Linked DNA regions of Homo sapiens: all the other regions are linked to region 1. The links come from fine-mapping of genetic effects on gene expression. A gene starts in region 1. Each other region holds a variant in brackets. All regions are shown on one strand. Distances are from middle to middle. Region 1 holds the start of LINC01269 (long intergenic non-protein coding RNA 1269). Region 2 overlaps TTC9 (tetratricopeptide repeat domain 9). Region 3 overlaps TTC9 (tetratricopeptide repeat domain 9).

Region 1 (7,853 bases):
ACAAGGTCAGGAGATCAAGACCATCCTGCCCAACGTGGTGAAACCCCGTCTCTACAAAAAATACAAAAAATTAGCCAGATGTGGCGGTGCACACCTGTAGTTCCAGCTACTCGGGAGGCTGAGGCAGGAGAATTGCTTGAACCCAGGAGGCAGAGGCTGCAGTGAGCCAAGATTGCGCCATTGCACTCCAGCCTGGGCGACAGAACGAGACTCCGTCTCAAAAAAAAAAAAAAAAAAAAAAAAGATAAACCAAGTGTCTTTCAATTGTTTGTAACCAAAAGAGCTTGACTCAGAGAAGCTAAAAAAACTTACCTAACACCACGTAACTTAAGAAGGATGAAGCTGGGACTCTAACGCCTGCACATTCCTATAACTGCCAAACCACTCAGACTTTGTCTTCTTCCTAGAGGTTGGCAGGGCAGAGGTGGAGCTTCCCCAGCAGATCGCACTGTCTCATTTCCCCTCCTTTCACGCCAGTACATTTTCCCAAGAAAAGCCAAGGTCAGAATCACCTCCAGGGCAGCCTCAAATGGGAAAAGAAGTTGACGACAGGAATGTATAGGAAGTAGAGAAGGGCAGCACCATTTTGGTGGGTAGGGATCAGGCAATGTGGGGTCAGTTTATGGTTTTACTGAGTCTTGATTCTTTTGGGGAGCAGGTGGAGCCAGCCCCTTCTCTCCATGGAGACACAGCCAGGCAGATGGGTTAGGTGAGCAAGTCACAGGCCAGGAAGAAGTGTGGGGACAGCTTAGCTTTTGAAGTGGGGACTTTGCCCATCAGGCTTCCAGGCCCAAATAAGTCCCCTCATCAAGGAAACTGTGTACCCCTCAGGCAGGCTTGCTCCAAAGATGCAGTCAAGCCAGGCAAAGACCAAGGAAAAGAGGGTCAAAGATCTCTCTGGGCAAATCCATTAGTGACAGCTGATCCCTTGGAGCCACTTGAAGTCTGCAGCTCCTGAAGCTCTGTTTATTAACTCTGTTTATTTCTCCAATTTGTCAAGTACTGTCTGCAAGCTCCAGCTTCCCTCATAAGTGCTCAGCTTCTATTCTGCCTCGCAGGCTTCACCAATTTGATTAGCATACTCTGCACTCCATCTTTCAAGTCGTTAATGAAAATACTGATGAATACTGGGAGTTATTCAGGTCCCTGGGAGGCCTCTCCTCCATCCCTTCATCTTTTTGCCTGGCAAGTAAACTGGAAGGGATGAATCCTCTTTTCAGATAGTCTTTGCCCACTGTTCAAGAGCTTTTGTCTAATCTTTTCATTCATTCATTTATTCAATCACTCATTTATTCATTTGCTAGGGCTAGAGGCTTAGCACAGTCCCTGGCACATGGAAAATGCTAAACAAATGCAAGCTCTTAGTGTTATGAGGTGCTGTGGAGAAACAGAGATGCACAGGATAGACCCCAGCCCTGAGCAGTAAGAATGGGAATAAGAATTACAGCTGCCAATTTTGAAATACTTGCCAGATACTGGGCTACGTACCGTCCAGACAATATCCAGCCCAGGCCAGGTATCATCCACCCTACAGAGGCATTTGTTGGTAATGATTAAAAGGGAGGATTCTGGCCAGGCGTGGTGGCTCACGCCTCTAATTCCAGCACTTTGGGAAGCCGAGGTGGGCAGATCACTTGAGGTCAGGAGTTTGAGACCAGCCTGGCCAAATGGTGAAACCCCATCTCTACAAAAATTAGCCAGGCATGGTGGCGGGTGCCTGTAGTCCCAGCTACTCGGGAGGCTGAGGCAGGAGAATTGCTTGAACCTGGGAGGCAGAGGTTGCAGTGAGCTGAGGTAGTGCCACTGCACTCCAGCCTGGGCAATAGAGTGAGACTCAGTTAAAAAAAAAAAAAAAAGTGAGGATTCTAAAGTCAAAATTCTTATTCTAGCTTTCCACTGACTGGCTTCTTTGCCTTAGATTCTCCCTCCGTACAGTAAGGGTACTATTAGTTATTTCATAGGGTTACTGTGAGGATTTAAATTATTAAATAATACAGAATTGGTACTTGGAGCACTGCCCAGCATATAATATGCACTGAACAAATGCTGGCAATTATTATTATTATTTGATGTAATACAATTACCCTTTATGAGGTAAGTGTTATTATCAGTGTTTTACCAACAAGAAAGCTGAAGTTTAGGAAGCCTGAGTAATTTGCCTAAAGTCCTACAACCAAATAATGGAACTCGGGTCCAAACCCAAATCTGATTCCAAATTCCATTTGCTTTATTACTGTATGCTAGAAAGGAAGAAAACATGCATACATACATACATAATTATTTTTACAAGACAGAAAAGCAAATGAGACTGTAGAGCACAGAATATTTTCATGGCGCATAGTAGATTCTCAATGAATCCAGCCAAATAATGATGATGTTGATGATGTCAGTAATGATGATGACAAAATTCTAAAGTGCCATACTGAAGTTTTAAAAAATTGTTTTAAGATGTCACAGGACAGAGAGAGATCATTTATGAAGAGAGGAATAGTTGGAGACTTTCCTGGAAAAGGTGGCATTTGCAAAGGCCTTAAAGGATGACCATGAGTTGGACACAAGGAGAGAAGAGAAAAAGGCACCCGGGTAGAGGAAACTGCAGGAGCAAAGGCTTACAGACATGAATGCTTAGGGTGTGTGTGAAAAGAAAGAGCAAGAAGTTCCACTGGACAGTACGTGTTATATGAAAGAAAATAGTTGGGACTGAGCTGGAAAGGAAGGAGACACACCCTTATTGACACATGAGGCCTTGCCCAAAAGACTGGTCAAAGCAGAGAGATTTCTCACACTTCAGAGTCTTCTGAAACTCACATTGGAGAAACAGCCATATGAGGGATTTGGAGATGAGGAATGGGGTTTCTTCAATATTCAGGCAAGAGTAAGTACCACAATGCTTATGCAATAAAGCTTCAGTTTGAGGTGAGGGTCAGTTTGAGGTGAGGGCTAGGCAGGGCTGACATTCAGCCAACACATGTGTATCAATATAGGTTGTTGAAAATATTAAACTGCTTTTCCTCCAGGCTGGTAAATGGCACTACCCTGAACCACCCAAGGCCCCTTCCCCTGGACTCCAGGACCTCCTCGACATCCTTGCATAAAAACATTAATTTCTGGCATTATTTTGATAATCACCCCTGGAGCTAGGGGACTTGGCTTGAGGATACTTTTGCATAGCATTTTACTTAACATTGAAAAACACAACAGTTTTATCAATAAATGGGTTGCAGAATGTAAAAGCAAACAGACCAACCGCTACACTCTGGCCTCAGATATTCCTCAAGCTAGATCCTTCTGGGGAACTAACTCTTTTCCTGCTGAGTCACTGTGGCTGCAGCCCTGCCCTTCCATGTGACTGTGTCATTTGGCATTATGGTTCCTCCTGAGCCCAAGGGAACTACAAAGGTCTGTATCAGGACACTGGGCATTGCCACTGTGCTAGGTGCACACACCTGACTGATCGTCTTGTGGGCTCCCGCATTTCCTGTTGCTCCAGGCATCAGATATATCCCTGGGATCCCTCCATTAGCTTGGCAATGCTATGGAAGTTGCCAGAAAAAGAATCCTAAGGAATTGGTTCTTGGCAAATCCTAAGGAATTTGGCTCAGGCATTTGTCTTCCTAATGAACTGGTGGGGAGGTAGCTGTGTTGGTACATCATCTCCAAGGCAGGATCCTGCCCTCTGAAGCTTGAGGTGAGAGCGGGGACATGGGGGGTGGTGGGGAAGCTTGGGACCTGCTCTTCCCTCTGCCATGAATTTTCTCTTTCTGCCCAAAGCAATGGCTTCTCTTAGCCCTGCATTTCAATTTGATTGCTCTCAGTCCCCACGGTCACCTTCCCCCACCCACAGCTCTTCACAAAAGACAGCCAAGAACAGGGAGGAAGGGATCCTGAGGCAGAGTCCCTTTGAGCCCAATTGAGGCTGGGGTCCCCGGGCAAATCTGCACCCTGTGCAACTCCTGGGACTGCAGATGTGAGTGATGCCCCAGGATGAACGGTGCCCCAAAAGCCTTGAGCGGGGGAACCCTGTGTGCCATCTGCCACTTCTCCCTTGGGAAGATAGCCCCACCACTGAGCCAGGGAGCACCAGGAGGAGGTCCTGGATCTCTAACATCTGTCATCCTGCTGGGTAATGATACTGTGTCTTTCATAAAAGTCAGAACTAGCCTGGGCAACATGGAGAAACCTCATCTCTACAAAAAAAAAAAAAAAGCTGGGCATGGCAGTCATGTACCTATCAGTGCCAACTACTTAGGAGGCTGAGGTGTGAGGATCGTTTGAGCCAGGAGGCAGAGACTGCAGTGAGCTATGATGACACCACTGCACTCCAGTCTAGGAGACAGAGTGAGTCCCTGTCAAAAAAATAAAAATTAAAAAGAAAAGCTTTCCATCCCTCCCTTTTAGAGAAAGCAAAGAAGACACATAGAAGACGGTAATTCACACACCTACAGGTGTGGCTGTGGTCACAGGCTTTGCCCAGGGACCTTTCCTGGGAGGGGAAAGAAAAGCCTATGAATTGCATTGAGGACCAGAACAAGGGCACAGGATATGGAGGGAGGTGACAACGAAATGGTTTTTATTGGCAATCAGTGCTTCACACACTGCGGTCCCTCCTACCAGTCCGCTAGCAGGTTCCTAGGGAAGCAACACGTCTTCTATTTGGCCATGCACACACCCCCACACCCCTCTACAGCAGGGTGCACTTTCTGTTCTCCTGCATGGCTGGCTTGATGCTCACCCTGCAGCCCAGTGACAGGAGGAATGACATCACGCCTGCCTGTGCAGAACCTACCTTCCATTCCCTATCTCAACTGTGCTCTTCTTCTCCACAGTGGCTCCCAAAGTCTCAAGCCCACTGTGCTGATTTGAGCATTTGGCTCAGCCTTTTCTGGTCATCACCAACGTTCACCTGGCCATGCTGATGGCAGCACGCATGGATCTGGCCATTCCCACAGCCTGGTCACCCCATGGTGGCCCTTGATTGAGCTTGCCATGGCACGGAAGGGGGCCTCTCCTACTCACCGATCTCCTTATTGAGGTACAGCACATTCATTTGTATTCATATGGTAGTAATACCTAATTTTTATAAAACTCCTCAAGTGCCAGGCACTGTCCAAAGTATTTACATACATTACTCATTTAATCCTCACAATCACATGATATATACTGTTAGCCCCAATTTACAGATTGAGGAAACTTGCCCATGGAGACTTTTGTTAACATATTCAAAGTTGCATGTAAGGAACAGGGCCCAGATTTCAACCCAAGCTACTAAGTTCCCAAGTGCATGTGTGTTCCAAAACATCATGCCATGAGGCTGCTGAAGATACACATGACTGGTATCCAAATCCTTCCTAGGAATAGGCAGTGATGCTATGGGTGGAGAAGCATGGAGGAGGCAGATCCTGGAAAGAGGGTGAGCAAAGGGCACAGAAAGGGGACACTGGGAGTCAGAAGCCAAAGGGGAACTTGGACTTCCCTCCGTTCTCCAAGGCCTGGCTCTCTTTGAAGATAGTGTGGGATGAGAGAGAGAACAGAATACTAAAGAACAGAATGAGAGCAGGTGAGCAGTGGGCCCAGAGGAGAGGAATGCACACAGGCTGAAGGGAGAGAAGAGACAAAATGGACATAGCACGTCTCACAAGCCAATGGGAGGAGCTGGGAACCCAGCATTAGCTGGAAGGTGCTCACCTTCCCTCTTGATGGTTGACTCAGTGCCGACACAGACTTTAGCTGTCAGCCTGAAAGCAATCAGCTCATCATTGCAGCCTCTTTATTGTCTAAATTTTTCTGAAAGCATGAGAAGCCACTGGCCTTTCAACAGGGCTACCGAGGACCTGGGGAAGAGAAGGGCAGGGAAGCAGAGACAGAGGCCAAACACAAGTGCTTCTGCCAGCAGGGTTCAGAGCACATCTGGCAACCCCAGCTCCCAGCCCTGAAGCAGGCACCAGGCTACAAGGACAGACATAGACCAGGGACAAGGAAAAGGAAGGGCCAGCCCCAAAGCCCTTGGGATGCCTTGTCAACAGGCCAGTGTCCTTTGGAAAACACTCCAAAGGAAACAACAAATGTGAGACAAAGGATTTCCTTCCTCTTCCCTCATGTCGGAAATTCCCTGAGTTTCTTTCCTGGACCACTTGTCTGTCTCTATAACAATCCTACACACTGGTCAAAGTTTTTAAGGCCAAAAGTTTTAAAGGAAATGGAAAGAGAAGTAAGATTGAAAAGATGTGTCAGAGTCTGTTGCTGTCACTGTGGGAGCTCACTCTTTCTTGTCACAGTGAACAAAGCTGAGGAAACCAAGATTTTTCCATGCATTTGCTGGGGTTGGGACCCATGGCCTAGAACTAGGGGTCAGCGGAAAACAGAGCATGCCCATTAGACAAAGGGGTTAGCGAGAAGGAAGATAGAAGCAGATGCCAATGGGGCAGGGAGCTGTAGGGAAAAGAGGGGGAAGAGGGAGGGATGGGGGGAAAAGGAGGAAGAAGTGGAGGAGGAGGGGATGAGGAGGAGAAGGAGGAACAAGAGGAAGAGGGGAAAGGAGGAAGAGGAGGGGGGTGAGAAGAAAGAGGAAGGAGGAGGAAGAGGAGGAGGAGGAAGAGGAGGAGGAGGAAGAGGAGGAGGAAGGGGAGGAGGAGGAAGGGGAGGAGGAGGAAGGGGAGGAAGAGGGGATGCACATGGAGAAGAGAAATCACCACTGCCTTGTCTGCCTTCACTTCTCCCTGCCTCTGGCATCCTCTACCTGCTGTCAGTCAAGTTCTTGCCACTGGCACTTAACTTGTCTTCCCTTTATGGACCTCAGCCATCCACCCCTCCAGGTCCTTCCTGCCTCTCACCTGGACCAGTCTGTGGCTTCCAATAATAGTCTTCTTAGCTTCAGTTTCTCCCATCTCCAGCTCATTCCTCTCACCACTCCAGGTTTAGCTTCCTAAAATATTATTTTCACGACATTATTCTCTATTATTTTTCATAACTCCCTCTTTAACTTCCATTTCCCAATTTGGTGTAATGGAAGGAGCCCGAGTTTTTCATAGACGGGTCCTCAAGGGTTCTCAGCCTCGGCACAGTTGATATTTGGGGCCAGATAATTCCTCACTGTGAGACCTGTCCTGTGCATATTTACATGTTCAGCAGCATTCCTGCTACCCTTGAGTGCATCCCTCCCCACTCCTACTTGTGACAACCAAAAATTTCTCAACAGTGCCACATGTCTCCTGGGTGACAAAGTTGCCTCTGGTTAAGAACCACTGACCTAGATTCAACTCCTGACTCTGTCACCTACTGACAGAGCTCCTTTGGGTAAATGACATAACTTCTCTGAAGCCTAGTTTCCTCAACATTAACACAGGGCTAATAATGCCTACCTTACAGAGCCATTGGGAGAATTAGATAAAATAATTCTAATATGTAACACAGACCTAACACAATACCTAGCACATGATAATAGCACAATGGGATGGGGCCCATTGTGTACAGTACAAACCGGAGATTCTACCATGGTTTAGCCCCATCCTAGATATATTAGAATAGCCATTTACTTGTTATTATAAGGAACAAAATAATAGTGGATTAAACAAGTAATAGTCCACATAAAATCAGTCCTGGCTGATAGAGTGCCCACGTGGTGTCTGGTGTACAGGCTCTTTCCAGCTTCATGTTCTGCCAACCTCAACACAAGGTTTCCATCCTATGGTCTAAGATGGCTGTTCCAGCTCCCACCACCACATGTCTGCCCTTCCAGGCAGCAAGAAGGAAAGAAGGGTGGAAGGGGAGAATATGCCTCTTTCCTTATGTGGGTACCATTGCGGTGCTGTACACATCACTTCCACTCACATTCTATTGGCCAGAGCCTAGTCACA
Region 2 (7,853 bases), 41 kb before region 1:
ATGACCCTAAGCATCCCCAGAACAGTGCCCCATGAAGAGGCAGTGCTTTCTGCCTAGGAAACCCTTCTGAATCCCTTTTCACACCTCTCCTCCCAAGTTCCTCTTCCCCTCATCCCCCAGCTCTCTCTGAAGGGATGATAATGGTTAGTGGTGACTTTTTAAAAATAGTTTCTGCCCGGGAGTGGTGGCTTATGCCTGTAATCCCAGCAGTTTGGGAGGCCAAAGTGGGTGAACCACCTGAGGTCAGGAGTTTGAGACCAGCCTGGCCAACATGGTGAAACCCTGTCTCTACTAAAAATACAAAAATTAGCCGGGCGTGGCGGTATATGCTTGTAGTCCCAGCTACTCAGGAGGCTGAGGCAGAAGAGTTGCTTGAACCTGGGGGCGGAGGTTGCAGTGAGCCGAGATTGCACTACTGCACTCCAGCCTGGGCAACAGTAAGGCTCTGTCTCAAAAAAAAAAAAAAAAAAAAAAAAAAAAAAAAAAATTCTAATTACAAAAGTAAAGCATCATAGTTGCAGAAGTTATTGATACTAAAAGAAAAACCTCAGACAAATTAAATTTAGCAGAGTTTAATTGAGCAAAGAATGACTCGTGAATCGGGCAGCCTCCCAAGCCCGAATAGGCTCAGAGAGACTTCAGTGCAGCCACATGGTGGAAGAAGATTTACGAAACAGAAAAAGGAAAGCCACCGTACAAAAAAATGGAAGCGAGGTACAGAAACAGCTGATACTTAACAGCTCTGCATTTGCCTTATTTGAACTCAGTTTGAACACTTGGTTGCCTTTGATTGGCTAAAACTCAGTTGATTGGCATAAGAGTAGGTTGCAGACTGTTTACACATCCAGCTAGTTTTCAGTTTACTATGGTTCCTTATGTACAAAGAAACCTTTAGGCCAAACTTAGACTATGTAAGGAGGCAGCTTTAGGCTAAATTTAATTTAGCATTGAAAATATAAGAAATTACAAAGAAGCAGCCCAGGCTCAGTGGCTCCCGCCTGTAATCCCAGCACTTTGGGAGGCCGAGGTGGGTGGATCACCTGAGGTTGGGTGTTTGAGAACAGCCTGGCCAACATGGGGAAACCCTGTCTCTACTAAAAATACAAAAATTAGCCAGGCGCAGTGGCGTGCACCTGTAGTCCTAGCTACTCGGGAGGCTGAGGCAGGAGACTCGCCTGAACCTGGGAGGCGGAGGTTGCAGTGAGCCGAGATCGCGCCACTGCTCTCCAAGCGTCGCTTGGGCGACAGAGCGAGACTCCATCTCAAGAAACAAAAAAAAAAAAACAAAGAAGAAGGTAAAACTCTGTCATTTACCACCCCAAGATGACAACAGTTAACCGTTTTGGTTTATTTCCTTGCCGTTTTTCTTCCGTGTGGGTGTATGATCATTTATATGTAAAACAAACATCAGCCAACCCCCTTCAGGTCTACCTTTCCCAGTGTATTTAGGAAACAAGGGGTTGTTCTCACGTGGGCTGGGGCCACTGCAGGGACCTCCTGTCTTTTCTCCCCTCCCCTCCCACAGGATGCTGCTCACTCTGTTTGCATGACAACCAAGGGGCCACTCGACTTCCTGTTGCTGCTACTTCCTTTTCACATTCCACAGCACCACTACACCCAGATGTATAATTTCACTAGACTTTACTGAAGGTTATGAGATGCAGAAGGAGTTTACATCTCAAAAATTGAATAGTAGAAATTCTTCCTCCTAAAACTCATTTGGCCATCAGACCACCAGGAATTTCAAATGGACCACTCACATTTTTTGGCAGGTTCCAGCTCCCCGCCATGCTGCTTGGACTCTTTCTCCCCGCCAGCTCCTCTCAGCTTCTTAGGTTTCCCCACTCTCAGATTCCCTTCATTTCATATACAAAGCAGTCTGGGCATCTTTTCATCTACGTGTGTGCCTGCTACTGACCTCTAAGCTTCACCTTCCCCACCTGAAGCAGTTGATGAAGCCAGTCTCCTCCAAAAAGATAATTTATTCCTTTAAACTCTGCTATAGATATTACAAATTCTTCACCCATACAGAAGGAGCAGAACTTTTAAAAGAAAAAATAATTCTTCACCCTGATACACACACACACACACACACACACACACACACACACATTTATTTTTCACAACATTCAGGTTTATACTGTACAAACTTTAGCAACCTTCATGTTTTTCCACCAGTGTTTTCATTGAAAATATTTTTCACCGTTCCACAGCATGATTGTAATGGCTGTGTAATGTTCCATTGCACCAATGTCCCATTATTTATTTAACTAATCTACTGATGGATACTTAGGTTATTTCCAGCATTCTGTGATTACAGCACAATGCTGCCAAAGACGTGCTCTTTCCGCTATACATGTGCCTGTTAATTATCCTATCCCCAAACACATCTGAGGACATGAGGGAAAGATGGTGGGAGAGGCAATAGGAACAGGGAACATGTCTCTGGGGCAGGAGAGGGGATTGAAATGGGAGACGTTCTTTAATGTCCAAAAAGAGAACAGGATAGAACTCTGGCTTCTAAGGTCTTCCCATTCTGGCTTAGAGTTTCTGCCAATGAACGTGACGTGTGTACTTGGCCAGAGCTGAGAAGGAAAAGATAATATGGGGCGATGGGTTTCTTCTGAATATTTCTGGGAATACACTCATCTTCACATTCCAAATGGCCAATCTGGCCACTCCAAAGTCCCGCTTCCAGACTGAGGAAGGGGTGTTAATGAAGATTCCAGCAAACAACAGCTCTGTCCTACCAACTTTTCACTACTGCCTTCTCCCTCTCTGTCTACTACACCAAAGTCAAGGGTGAGAGTAAGGGGCCATAGGTGGGATAACTTCTAAGTGTTCTGCCATAGCACCCAGATTGGTGCCAAAGGGCTGAGCTGACCTTAAGCTTTGGCATTACAACTCCCTTGGGCAGATTCCTATATGCTTTAAAGGACTGTCAATGTAAGCTTTCAGCTTACAGGATTTTATACTGACTTTCCATGCAGTTCTTTTACCTGCCACTTTGACAGCTATTTTTGCCAACAGAGGGTAATTAAAAAGAATATAAACTCCTTGAAGATATCAATATCTCTTGAATGCTTTCCATATTCCTTATGAAGCCCTGGGCACAGGCCACGATGAGTGAATCCTTATTGACTAAGTTTACTAAGAGTGCCTA[C/T]CCGAAATTGTGTAGTGATGATGCGTGGGAAGCAGCAGCTCTGGTAGTGATCCCAAAGGTGGGGCATCCATGTGAAGAATCAGAGGGATTCAAGGGAGCAGCTTGGTTATGATGAAAAGGAGAGATCTCCAAAGACAGTGTTGCTAAAACAAAGAAAACAAAAGACACACTTGACAGTGTTTGTTTGAATCTAGTGCAAGCACATACTAGAATGGAAAAGTGGAAGGTCAGAAATTAATGTGAATGGAATCAAAGGAGATTTAGCCCCCTAGATAAAGCCAAACAGCTCCTGGCAGTAGAAATAGCAGCAGCAGTAGTGGGAGACTCTCTGGGCAGCAGGCAGGAGAAATAGGTATTGGAGTGAACAAAGAAACGGCTACTTGTGGGCCAGACACGGTGGCTCACACCTGTAATCCCAGTGCTTTGGGAGGCCGAGGCGGGCAGATCACCTGAGGTCAGGAGTTCAAGACCAGCCTGGGTAACATGGTGAAACCCCATCTCTACTAAAAATACAAAAATTAGCCAGACCTGGTGGCAGGCACCTGTAATCCCAGCTACTTGGGAGGCTGAGGCAGGAGAATTGCTTGAACCCAGGAGGCAGAGGTTGCAGTGAGCTGAGATAGTGCCACTGCACTCCAGCTTGGGCGACAGAGCGAGACTCCATCTCAAACAAACAAACAAACAAACAAAGAAACAGCCACTTGGAGGGTGCTAACTCTCTGAGCCAGAGTTCTCAGTCCTCAGACTTGATAAAGACCTTCAGAGATCAGCCAGTCCGGGTTTCCACCATTACCACCAGCTCTGTTGGATTGGAACCAATATGGGATTTGGGGTTAAGTAAACACTAGCTCTTTCCCCATAAGAGCTAAGTGGGCTCAGCGGGTCACTTAACTTCCCCAAGCCTCAGCTCCTGGAAGCAGAGCTAATAATAGCTATTTCCCGGAGTCTCCATGAAAGTTAAATGAGTTGTAAAACACCGTATATATGTTAGGTCTTGCTGCCAGTTGGGCATAACCACTGTGGTAGGTGCTGTGTGAGAATTTAAAGATGTTCTAGAGATGTTTGTCTGAAAGAGCAAGGGAGACGCATTTCATAAAGAACAGTAATGATCCTGATTTGAGAATGTAGCTATGAAAAATAATTTTATTCTTTGTAAAACTAAAGGGCACATTTGATGATTGTACCTGTAGATCTGACTCATTAGAGAGACCCCCTAACAGGTTCTGCAAAGCATTACCATTAGGCAAGGATGTGCTATAATTTCACAGATATTTAAAAAATAATAATTTCTTAGCAAGTTAGAAATAGAGCAAAATTGCCTGATCTCAGTTAAAAGCATCTGCAAAAAAAAACTGAAGCCAACATCATAGTTGATGACAAGAAATGAAATTCTTTCTCTTATGATCCAGGAATTGCACTCTTGAGCTCTTATCTTAGAGAAATAAAAGCTATACCTGACTATTCCTATCAACTTTATTCGTAATAATCAAATACTGGAAACAGCGCAGATATCTTTCAGCAGATGAATGGGTAAACAAACTGTAGTACATCCATACCATGCAATACTACAGAGCAATTAAAAAAGGATGAACTATTGGTGCATTTAACAACTTGGATGCATTGCAAGGAAATTATGCTGAGTGTAAAAAGCGCCTTCCAAAGGATTTCATGCTATGTGATTCCATTTATATAATATTTTCAAAATGACAAAATTTTAAAAATAGAGAACAGGTTAGCAGTTGTCAGGGGTTAAAGAGGAAGTGGTGGGACAGGAAGGAGATGATAGAGGAACCTACACACGATAAAACTGTATATAACTAAACACACACACACGCACACACACACACACACACACACACACACATACTGGGTACAAGTAAAGCTAGGGAAACCTGAATAAGATCTGTGGATTCTATCAGTGTCAATATCATAGCCAATATGTTGTACTATCATTTTACAAGATATTAGCGCTAAGGGAAAATGGGTAAAGGGTATGGGAGGTCTCTTTGTAGTATTTCTTACAACGGTAGGTGAATCTACAATTATCACAATAAAAGTTTCAAGTAAAAAATAATAATTGGGGGGTTAGTTTTGCAAGCACTAGCTAAGCAAAGATAGGTGTTGTTTCAGGAAGAAACCAGAAACGTGTCATGTCAGCCCTGTTAGGATAACAGTAGACTCTGAATGGAATTGGAGATGCTGGTGGTTTTAGAACTTAGGAAAAAAAGCAGCCGCAGCAGGAGGAGGGGAAACTTTGCAGTTGGTTTTGTTTGCTTGTTTTTTGTTTTTCTCTCTGAATGTAAAGGAACTAGTGGGAGAGAAGGTTCTGGAGGGTTACATAGGAAGTTTCCGGATGAGTATTTACGTATAAAGTGAGAACAGTTTAGCACAATTAGGGTCTCACACTTAAGCCCTACAGGAAGCAGTACCCATGCCTCAAATATGTCTAATGAAGGAATTGAGTTAGAATCATTACAGGCAGGTAAGCATCCTAGGAGGGCAGTGTGTGTGATGGTTAAAAGCACAGTCTCAGGTGCCAGATGACCTAAATTCAAATCCTGGCTCTGACACTTACTAGCATTGTGACTTTGGGCAAGTGACTTGACTTCCTAGGGCCTCCATTTTCCTATCTGAAAAAAATGGGCAAAATACTAGAAGCTAGAATAGATTGCTGTCAAGATTAAATGAGTTAATGCTCAGAGCAGTGCCTGGCCCATTCATGCTAAATAAAGATGACCTGCTCTTCCTCTTATTCCCTTTCTGGGAGGATGGATGGATACTGTCCACTGGTGCAGGGCCATATTCTCTTGAGTGCATCATGCAGCACCTCATCCTTCTGCTCCTTTTCCCCATCTCCTTGGCCGGGGTTCTTATTCTCCAGGGGAATATTTCAAATCACTAACAAGAGAAGTATCCAAATGTCACAAGTTGACAGCGTAACAGAGAACAATTATTTGCACACATGTGCAGATTTCCAGCTCTAGGACTTGGCCATCTGATACCTGTCTGCCCTTGTGGGTAGTGGGTGAAAATCTACTTTAGATAGAAAATCTACTTTAAATTACGCTGTAGCTTTGTTTATGTACCACATATTGTATATAGGACTCAAGATGGAAATTTTCTCCAATTCATGTACACATTGCTGGGCAAACCATATTTGATAAGTGACTTTCTAAAGAACTAGTATTTATGAGAATCCATTTTTGTCCCAGCACTGTGAGAAGCATGTAATGTGCATTAATTATCTCATTTCATCATCATAAGCGTTCCCCCAAAGTTCCTATTTAACATGGGAAGAATAAGACCCAGGGTGATCATATAACTCGCCCTCGGGCCTGTGCTAGTGAGTGGCAGAGCTCAGATTCCAGCTCAAGACTGCATCTCTAGACCCAGCATTAGTCTTCAGCCAGGGCACCCAGAGCTGGTACAATACTGTTTGCCTATTTGGTTTGGTTATGATCTATACCAGTCATTCAATATTCTTAATATCAGCTCTGTCCAGATCCCAAACTTCTTCCACTTTACTACTATGTCATTGCTTCTTGAAATAAATTTGAAAGCAAATCAAATAATTTGGCAAACTTTTGGGAAAATTTTCCCCTAGGAACCCAATGGCCATTTCCTGGGCCCATCTCACAAAGCAGTGACTAGCAAGGTATATTAGTTTCCTAAGGCTGCTGTAATATCACACACTGGGTGACTTAAAATAACAGAAATTCATTGTCTTGTCATTCTAGAGGCTAGAAGTGAAACATCAAGGTGTCGGCAGGGTTGGTTCCCTCTGAGGGCTGTGAGGAAGAATCTGTTCCAAGCCTCTCTCCTAACTTCTGGTAGCCCCAGGCACTCACTGGCTTTGTAGATAGCCGTCTTCCTAGATCTTATTGCATCATCTTTCCACTCTGTATCTGTCTCTGTGTCCAAATTTCTCCTTTTTATAAGGACACTAGTCAAATTGGATTAGGGCCCATTCTAACTATTTCATTTTAACTTGATCATCTCTGCAAAGACCCTGTCTCCAAATAAAGTGACATTCTTAGGTACTGAGGGTGAGGACTGTAACGTATCCTGTACAAATGGATACGGTGCAACCCCAAACAGTGAGGCAGCCTTGTAGAGTAGGTTCTTCCTTCTCGCTGCTGGCCCCAGATGGGTCTGGTCTTCCTTCCATTTAGCCCATGTTTCCCTTCTGTTCAGCAGGTAAAAGCAAACTATAGTGAGTTAGCTATAAGAAGAAAACCAGTGATTGCATGAACTTGTTCTTCCTTTCATCTGGTTTCCCTTTATCTCATGCCAGTGGGTGGCGTTTTGCCCTGCATGCACCAGGAAACACAAAAACAAAACAGGTGCCAGAGTGAGGAGAACTCAACATGCTTTAGCCTGAGGTCTCAGCGTGGTTGCTGGGGGGAACATCACACTTAGGATTTTCCGTCTGTGTGCATGAGTGTCGCGGGGGCTCTTTGAGTAGCTGATTCTCTATTTGCTAAACACGACCCCTCTGTGGGCCTCAGAAGGCCTGCCAATTCTTTTCGTAAGATCACACCCTAACCGCCTAAGGCTGGCAGTGGAGGAATCTGTACTTGGGAGGGGTGGTTGGAGATTTGCAGCTTCAATTCTTGTCCCCCAGATTTGCCTTTCTCTTGTAAGTTCACTGGCCACCTCTGCTATCACCCTGTTTGGCTCAAGGAAGGCT
Region 3 (7,853 bases), 24 kb before region 1:
AATAGAGGTTGTTTCTTGCAGATGGTACAGGAGGCTCAGAGAAGTTGGCAACTTGCCTGATGTTAAACTCCAACTGGGGTCTCACTAAACTAACTGCGCCGGCTGGGAAACCACTGGGATACGCTGCTGCATAGAAAGAGGGAGAGAAATTCTCTCTCCTCTCCCACCCATTCTCTCTCACATCCCCTGGGTCATGCCAACCTGTCCACATTTGCTAAGGGGAGACAGTGAAGGAGAGGGTCGACATCTAGTTGCCCTCTCAGCCACCATGGATAGGCAGAAGGGACCTTGGTTGAGTGAGCCTGGCCTGTTGGATGTCTGCAGACACAGCCTTTGCTAATTCCTTGTAAATGTGATAGTTGCCCTCACCTGGTGTTCCCTAAGGTTTATTTCTCTCCTCACAGACACCAACGTGATTCGGTATATCCAGCTGACGGAGATGAAACTCAGCCGATGCTCCCAGAGAGAAAAAGAAGCCATGTAACCAGGAAGCAGCTCCAGAGCTGCGCCCACGCCTGACCGGGGACTTCCAGGCATCCCCTGGCAGAGAGCCCCGTCCTGGATTCTGTCCCTTTCTCCCCACTTCTTCTGGCTCCTCATTTTTCCTCCTGTTGCACCCCAGCTCTTTGTCTCCTCCCAGTACGAAAAGGAGAGATGCAAATTTGGAATCTGGTAGGTCGCCCAGACAATGGAGACATCCTCTCCTCTAGCAGGTCAGCGACTGAGAGGGGCCTGACTTCTGCTGGGACAGCTGGAGAGGAGTCTCATGGGCTGGGATGCTGTTGTGGCTTTGACTTTGGCCAGTGCTTCTGACAGAGGCGGAGCCTGGCAAGTGTACCATCCCACAGGCAGCAGGCACACAGCCCATGGGCTGGATCCTTCCACACTTTCCTGACAGACCAGAACCAGAGCATCTCGAGGCAACTGTTAGAAATCCAGGGACGAGACAAACAGAGAAGCGCTGGTGAAGCCAACATAGAGACTGTCAATGTGTACACTGGAGTTCCCACCCCCACCCCCCACCCGTCACTTAGCCCCTGCCTCCTTCCCCCACTCGTTGTCTTGGCTTGTGCTTTCTCCTCTCCCCATCGGGGATCCGAGACTCTGCCAGGATTCACATGCCACTGAAGCCCACTCAGTGCCCTCTGGTGACCACACATACCATTCCCCCGGACTCCCACCCAGCAGGCAGCTGTGACCGCAGAAGGGCAGGATGAAGTGGGCCAAGGTTTGGGACAGGTTGACTGTGTAGGTGACAGGGAGGGAAAGATGATGGCCAGGGGAAAGAGCATCGTATAGGCTAGGGGATTGAACTGTGGACTGATTCAGTGTAAATAAAAACAAATTAACAGGTAGTAGTTCCTGTCAGTTCTGTTGGAAGCAGCCCACTCCCTCACTTTTACTCCTTCCTCCAACCCTCAATCAGAGCTACTTACAGCCAGGCAGGATGGGGCTTTCCCCAAAGCAATTGGCCGTTTGTCCAGTGGCAGACAATGGTGGCTACAGCCTTTGTGCTTTTAAGAGTGGGCTGGGATTGTGGAGACTGCCCAGGGGCTTGGCTTTGTCAGAACTTGTACAATCTTCTTTTGATGAAATTATCTGAACTCAACATCTAGCACATAGAATGTGTTCAACAAATGCTTGTTGAATGAATAAATTATGACTGCAGACTGGCTCTCCTGCCTTAAACTAATTTCATCCCAGCCTAGTCTCCTGATGTCTGTGCTCGTTATGCTATGCCATGTTGCTTCAGTCAAACAAGAAACACTTACTGAGGGCATATTGTTTGCCCATCATTGTGCAATATGCTGTGGGACATGGGATGTCGTCTCAGTCTTCAAGGAAATGGAAGGGTTAAGAAATGCATATGAGATTATTACCAATGACACCGTTAATTTATATGATGCTTTAAAATTATCAGAGCACTTTCATGTATTTTTCGTGTGACTAGTGAAAAAGACAATGTTGTACAAAATTAAAATATATACAGATGCAATAATGTGAATAGTTAGGATTTATTAAATGCATTATCTTCAGATCTTTACATGTATAATCTCATTTCTTTCATGCAGTTACTCTGGGATACTGTTCCCATTTGATGGGTAAGAATATTGAAAACCAGAAAAATTAATTATCCCAAGGTTGCATGGCCTTTAGTGGCATAGCTAGGATTTGAACCAGGCCTGCCTGACTCCAGAGCTCTGGCTAGTATCTATGCTATACTTAGTTGCCTCTCTGTAAGTATAATATTGGGCAATTATAACCATTTGAGAACAGGACAATATGTATTAACCTGAAAAGTGTTCATGATGTCAGTGATAGTACATGGCCTCCTTATGTATTTACTCAAGGGCCCCAAAAGACCAGAGGCCAGAATCCCTAGTAGTCAGAGCAGTGACAGGTCAGAAAAAGGCAGCTGAGGTCCAATAGTTATGTCTGTGTATTGCTCATTCTACTTACTGATGGAGCCAGCATGTATCTCAACAACTCACCTAGCATTCATCACCCATCCCCAGCATTGGGAAAGGGTCACAATTAAGACCGAAAGGAAACACAAAGTTAAATATGGGTTAATTATGTAAGCAGATGCCCCACCACGGCAGGATCCAATCACAGCCGAGGGGCCCAGAAGAGAGCAGCGTAAGTTATATTCACATAGTTCCCCAAAGGCTTTCAACGGGGGCTACAGGAAGGTGCTAGAAATATTGAGGGGCCTGCCATTACTCACCTAGAGCTCACTCTCTGGAGAAGAGGAAAAGGAAGAAGCTATTTCAGCTGCCACATTCTCCCCAATCCCTACTATATTATGCTGTCTTTCCTCTTCCTCCTAGCTGGCTTTACATGACCCTAACCCAAAACTACCCTATGGCCCCACACGGGAATGTGTTCAAACGCCCCGACCCCCACCCCCACCCCCATTCCCAAGCCTCCAACTTAGAACGTTTGTGATTTGGCAGATGGTTTGTTAGGATCTGAAGGATGAAGAGAAGGGTAGAGGTCACCTGGAGAATGAGTTCAAACTGCCAGGGTCTTCCCTTGGTCTTTGTGCGTCAGGAAGGACTCCGAGTAATTATTCCCTATGCAGAGACAGGAGAGAGGTCTTGTTTACATGAGTGTGCTGGGGCAGGGCTGGACAATCCAGGATATGATTGTAGCCATCCCATGTAGAAAGATCAAAAACCAGAACGAAATGAAGACAGCCTCTCAGAACCTCATAGAACAAGCGTCCAGGTCATCTGCTTGTTTGGTGACTTAGATATACAGGCTTACTGGAACTCCATTCACTGTGACCTGAAGTTAAATAATCCCAAAGAGAAAAAGCTACCTGGGGTATTGGTTGATGTTTGGGGTGATAGGGCTGAATTTTCTGTGCATTTGTCCAACAAAGGCTTTAGAGCACAAAACCAGGTTCATTCTCCCTACCAAATCTTCAGCTTCCTTCTCCTCATCCCTCCCCAAAACAAGAACTGTGATTTAATTCCGTACGTTGCGGATGTCACTGCTGACCTATGTAGCTGGAGTACTAATCAGGCATCTGACCTGCACTGTCATCCCCTGCCTGGACTTTTGCGATGGACTCTT[T/C]GGGGGAAAAACTAACGCTTTTTAATTATTGTGAAAGCATCATGTGTGTATTGTAGAAGTTTTAGGAAAAAAAGGACAAAATCCAATCCATAAGCTTACCACCCAAGACAAACGTGTATTCTTTTGAATATACCTTTTAGTTCTTTTTGGTGTAAATGTACACACGCACACACAGTTGTGGATTTTTTTAAACAAAAACTGGATACACTGAATATACTCTTTAATAACTTTTCAAGTGTGTATTTATATTTTAGAATATGTAATCCTACACAGATACAAAATTCAAAAAGTACAAACTGCTCTGTAGTCAGAAGTAAATCTTCTCCCTACCCCGTCTGCCAGCATCTAGTTTCCCTCTAATTTATTTTGCATCCTAGTGGAGATGCTTACACATTGTCAAACATATGTATATATTCTTTTATCACACACAAATGGCAGCATATTGGACACTTTTTGTTTTTTGCTCCTTCTGTTCCTTCACTTAATAATATCACGAACATTTTCGGCATATCAAACTTTCTCAACAGCATCTTCATTGTATGGATGGACCCTTTTTTTATCATCAATCCTCAAATAGTGATTATTTCATTTGTTCCCAATCTTCATTGTAAATAGTGTTGCAACTGACATTCTTGTAGCTAAATTTTGCACATGTCTATAACGATTTCCTTAGGATAAACTCCAAGAAGAGACTTGCTTGGCTATTTTTAAGAATTTTGATACATGTTGCCAACCACCCTCCAGAAAGTTTGTACCAAAACGCTCTCCTATTTGGATCCTAGAGAGTACCCTGTTTCCTGCACCCTAACACTAGGTATCATCACTTATCAAATCTTTCCCAATTTGGTAGCTGGGATAATAGTATGTCAATGTTATTTTAACTTTCTTTGATTCTTCGCGAATAACATTTTCATATGCTTATTGACCATTTGTACTTCTTTCTTTGTGAATTTTCTATTTATTTGATATTGGTATGTTTATTATCAATTTGTAATTTTATTAAGAATATTATTTTTGTCAAGAAATGCTGCAAATATGCTTTCCAAGTGCTTTGCTTTCAAATTTTGTTTATGGTGCTTTTTGACATACATAAATTCTTAATTCTGCAATTAATTCGTTCCTCTGTTGCCAGCTTCTCCTGCCTACAGTTCATTCTCTTATTTCTATCAGAGTGACCCTTCCAAAACACAGTTTGACCATGTCACTCCACAACTTCAGCACTTTGGGAGGCCAAGGTGGGTGGATCACAAGGTCAGGAGTTCAAGACCAGCCTGGCCAAGATGGTGAAACCCCATCTCTTCTAAAATACACACCCACAAAAAAATCAGCTGGGTGCGGTGGCAGGCACCTGTAATCCCAGCTACTCAGGAGGCTGAGGCAGGAGAATCACTTGAACCTGGGCATCAGAGGTTGCAGTGAGCCGAGATCACGCCACTCCACTCCAGCCTGGGCAACAGAGTGAGACTCTGTCTCAGGAAAAATAAAATCTTTAGTAGCGCCTCGTCACTTCTAGGATAAAGTCCAAACTCCTTAACAACACACACGGTCTTTCATATTTTGTCTCCACTGATCTTTCCAGCCTCACTTCCTGGTCCTCTTCCCAAAGTATCCTACATTCCACTGCTGTGCAGCTTCTTTTGCCGCCCTGAGCCATTGTGCTGGGTCTCTGGGCCTTTCCACGCTATTCCTTCCCTCTGCCTCATCGGCTATTCCTTAGCCCTTCAGTCCTCTCTACCTTGCTAACTCCTATAGGCCTTCATTCAGGATCACTGCTAGAAAGCCTTCCTTGGTCCTTTAGTCTGAATTCTTAAAGCAACACAAGCCTACCTCAGCCTAGCTTTTGCTACAACAAATTAGAGTTTCTAGTTTACATTCATCTCCCGCACGCCCTGGGTGTCCCTCAAGGCAGGCACTGTGGTATATTCATCTTTGCAGCCAGAATGTTGAGCACCATGCCTGGCACATTGTAGGTACTCAGAAAACGTTGAGCATTCAGCCTGGAATGAAGGAATAATGGGTTCAGTGGCAAATGTTACTGGAGGTAAATGCAGGGCTGAACTAGATCTGTGCTTCTGAGAAATGAAGATCTCCTAAGAGACTTGGGTCAGAAGAGAAGCCACGTGCTGCAGCCCTGTGCTTTCCAAGATATCAGAATCACTAGGAAGAGCTTTTTAAAAATACATAATCTCAGGCTCTACCTTAGACCCATTGAATCAGATTCACAGGAATAGTGTTCAGGATAGTTTTTTGAATGCCATGAGGTAACCAGCCAGGTTAAGGGGCCACTGCTGAGGCCCAGCAAACTTGAGAGCACGCCGCTCCACTATTTCAAACCATGTGACATTTTACAGTGGATAGACGGAGTTTTGTTTGAATACCAGCTTTAACATCTGCTAGCTGTGTGACCCTGGTGCAGTTGTTTAACTTTTCTGACCCTCATTTTCCTCGCCCATACATGGGGAGAATGTTTTGTTTTGTGTTCCAAGATGGAGTCTTGCTCTGTCGCCCAGGGTGGAGTGTGGTGGCACGGTCTCCGTTCACCGCAACCTCCGCCTCCCAGGTTCAAGCAATTCTCCTGCCTCAGCCTCCCGAGTAGCTGGGATTACAGGCACACACTACCATGCCCAGCTAATTTTTGTATTTTTAGTAGAGAGAGGCTTTCACCAATTTGGCCAGGCTGGGGGAAAATGTTTTATCCCTTAAAAGGGTGTGGGGAGGACTAAGAAATAAGTATCTCCCAGCTCAGTGGCTGGCACAGAATAAGCACAGAAAAAACATTTATTTCCTTCCCCCACCCTCCCTGGCCTCAGTTTCCTTGTTTATAGTGTGGCTGCTAATACTTGCACGTTCACCTTCCACATTCCCCCTCTCTGCACTGTAGAAGGAAGGGAACCTTCCAAGAGGCCCTTGGGTTACTCTCTGCTCAAGCAGGACAAGTACTTGGAGGTGGGGAGTAGAAAGACAGAGGAAGCTTCATACTCCAACCCATGCCTCTCCAGGCTTCAAAGAGACTCCACAGCAATCAGTTGGAATAATTCTGATGGTTCTCGGAATCAGCTGTCTTCCAGTCACATCCAACGATAAACGCTGTTTTCTTCCTAACAGTCCACCCAGAGGCCAGCAGCCTCTGAGCTGCAAGGAGACGGCAATTGCCGGGAAATAGAACAGCCATTGCCCACTCCCCTTCCAGTGCCCTTGGTATCCTCATCACATGCCTCAGGGCAGGAAAGACAAGACTGGCTGTGAGGTCAAATAGCTGGTCTGCAGCTGCTTTAAGACGCCCCACTCCCTGGTCTCAATGCCAGCACTCTCTCCACAGCAGCCCAGGGCGGGCAGTGGAGGCAGGGAAAATGCATTCAGTCCATCAGGCGTGGCATAGTTCAAATTACCAAGTCAGCATGAAAAGTCCCACTCTAAATGGACTGAAATTGGATTCTATTAAAAACCACATTCAGCGAGACCCTTGACTATTAATATTTGCTAAGACACGGAGGAGGGGGAGGCGGTGGAAGCCCCTGAGAAAGGCTGAGCATCTCAGCTGCTCCGTTGAGTTGCCTGTCTGAAAGGGAGCCTACGTCTGACCCCTAGACTTGCCTTGTTTTCCAAGTCTCACAGAATATTAGGGCTGGACAGAAGCTTGAAGCTCAGTAGTTCAACCCTCTTTTCTTTCAGATGAGAGATCAAGTCCAGAGATGATTAAGAGATTTATTCAAGGTCACACAGATAGTAAGCAGCAAATCTGAACTGGAACTCAGGTCAGTTTCCTGACAACAAACAATACTCTTTCCACTGAACCAAAGTATACTTCCAAAATATATATACACACATATATGTATATGTGTGTACGTGTGTGTATATATATATATATGTGTGTGTGTGTGTATATATATATATGCTGTAAAATTGTTCTCTTCTAAAGAAAGAAGGAGCATAGTACTCATTTATTTACTCCCGCATTCAGTACTTATTCCAATCACTTCATTAGGTGGTTCATTGGTAACAAGGAGTTGTCTCTGCTTGAGGGGCTTACAGTGTATAGGGAAGAAAAAAAAGTAAATGAGCAGTGTCAGTTCTGTGTAGGAAATGTTCTAGAAAACATCGTGGAGGCTCAGTACAGTGGCTCACGCCTATAATCCCAGCACTTTAGGAGAACGAGGCAGGCGGATCGCTTGGGCCCAGGAGTTCGAGACCAGCCTGGGCAACATGCCAAAACCCTGTCACTATAAAAAATTAGCCAGGCATGATGGTGCATGCCTGTAGTCCCAGCTACC

Evidence for each region. PIP is the estimated chance that this variant, and not a neighbour inherited with it, causes the effect. A credible set is the group of variants that fine-mapping cannot tell apart.
Region 2: its variant is the best candidate, but not a certain one, in a credible set for the expression of LINC01269 in whole blood (INTERVAL, PIP 0.62).
Region 3: its variant is the best candidate, but not a certain one, in a credible set for the expression of LINC01269 in whole blood (TOPMed, PIP 0.86).

The regions. Positions count from the first base shown.
Region 1 is chr14:70,695,169-70,703,021 of GRCh38, forward strand. LINC01269 (long intergenic non-protein coding RNA 1269) reads left to right here and starts at 3,530. Exons shown (of 4, transcript NR_125769.1): 1 at 3,530-3,688; 2 at 4,827-5,032. RefSeq lists enhancers at 2,640-3,839, 3,246-3,747, 3,748-4,247.
Region 2 is chr14:70,654,136-70,661,988 of GRCh38, forward strand. All of the region lies in intron 1 of TTC9 (tetratricopeptide repeat domain 9), which reads left to right. Among named protein-coding and RNA genes, the nearest start is that of TTC9, 16 kb to the left of the region's middle. RefSeq lists a silencer at 346-485 and an enhancer at 546-605. The variant C/T (reference allele first, on the strand shown) is at 3,164.
Region 3 is chr14:70,670,672-70,678,524 of GRCh38, forward strand. It overlaps TTC9 (tetratricopeptide repeat domain 9), which reads left to right. Exons shown (of 3, transcript NM_015351.2): 3 at 405-4,695. The coding sequence ends at 484. Among named protein-coding and RNA genes, the nearest start is that of LINC01269, 24 kb to the right of the region's middle. The variant T/C (reference allele first, on the strand shown) is at 3,583.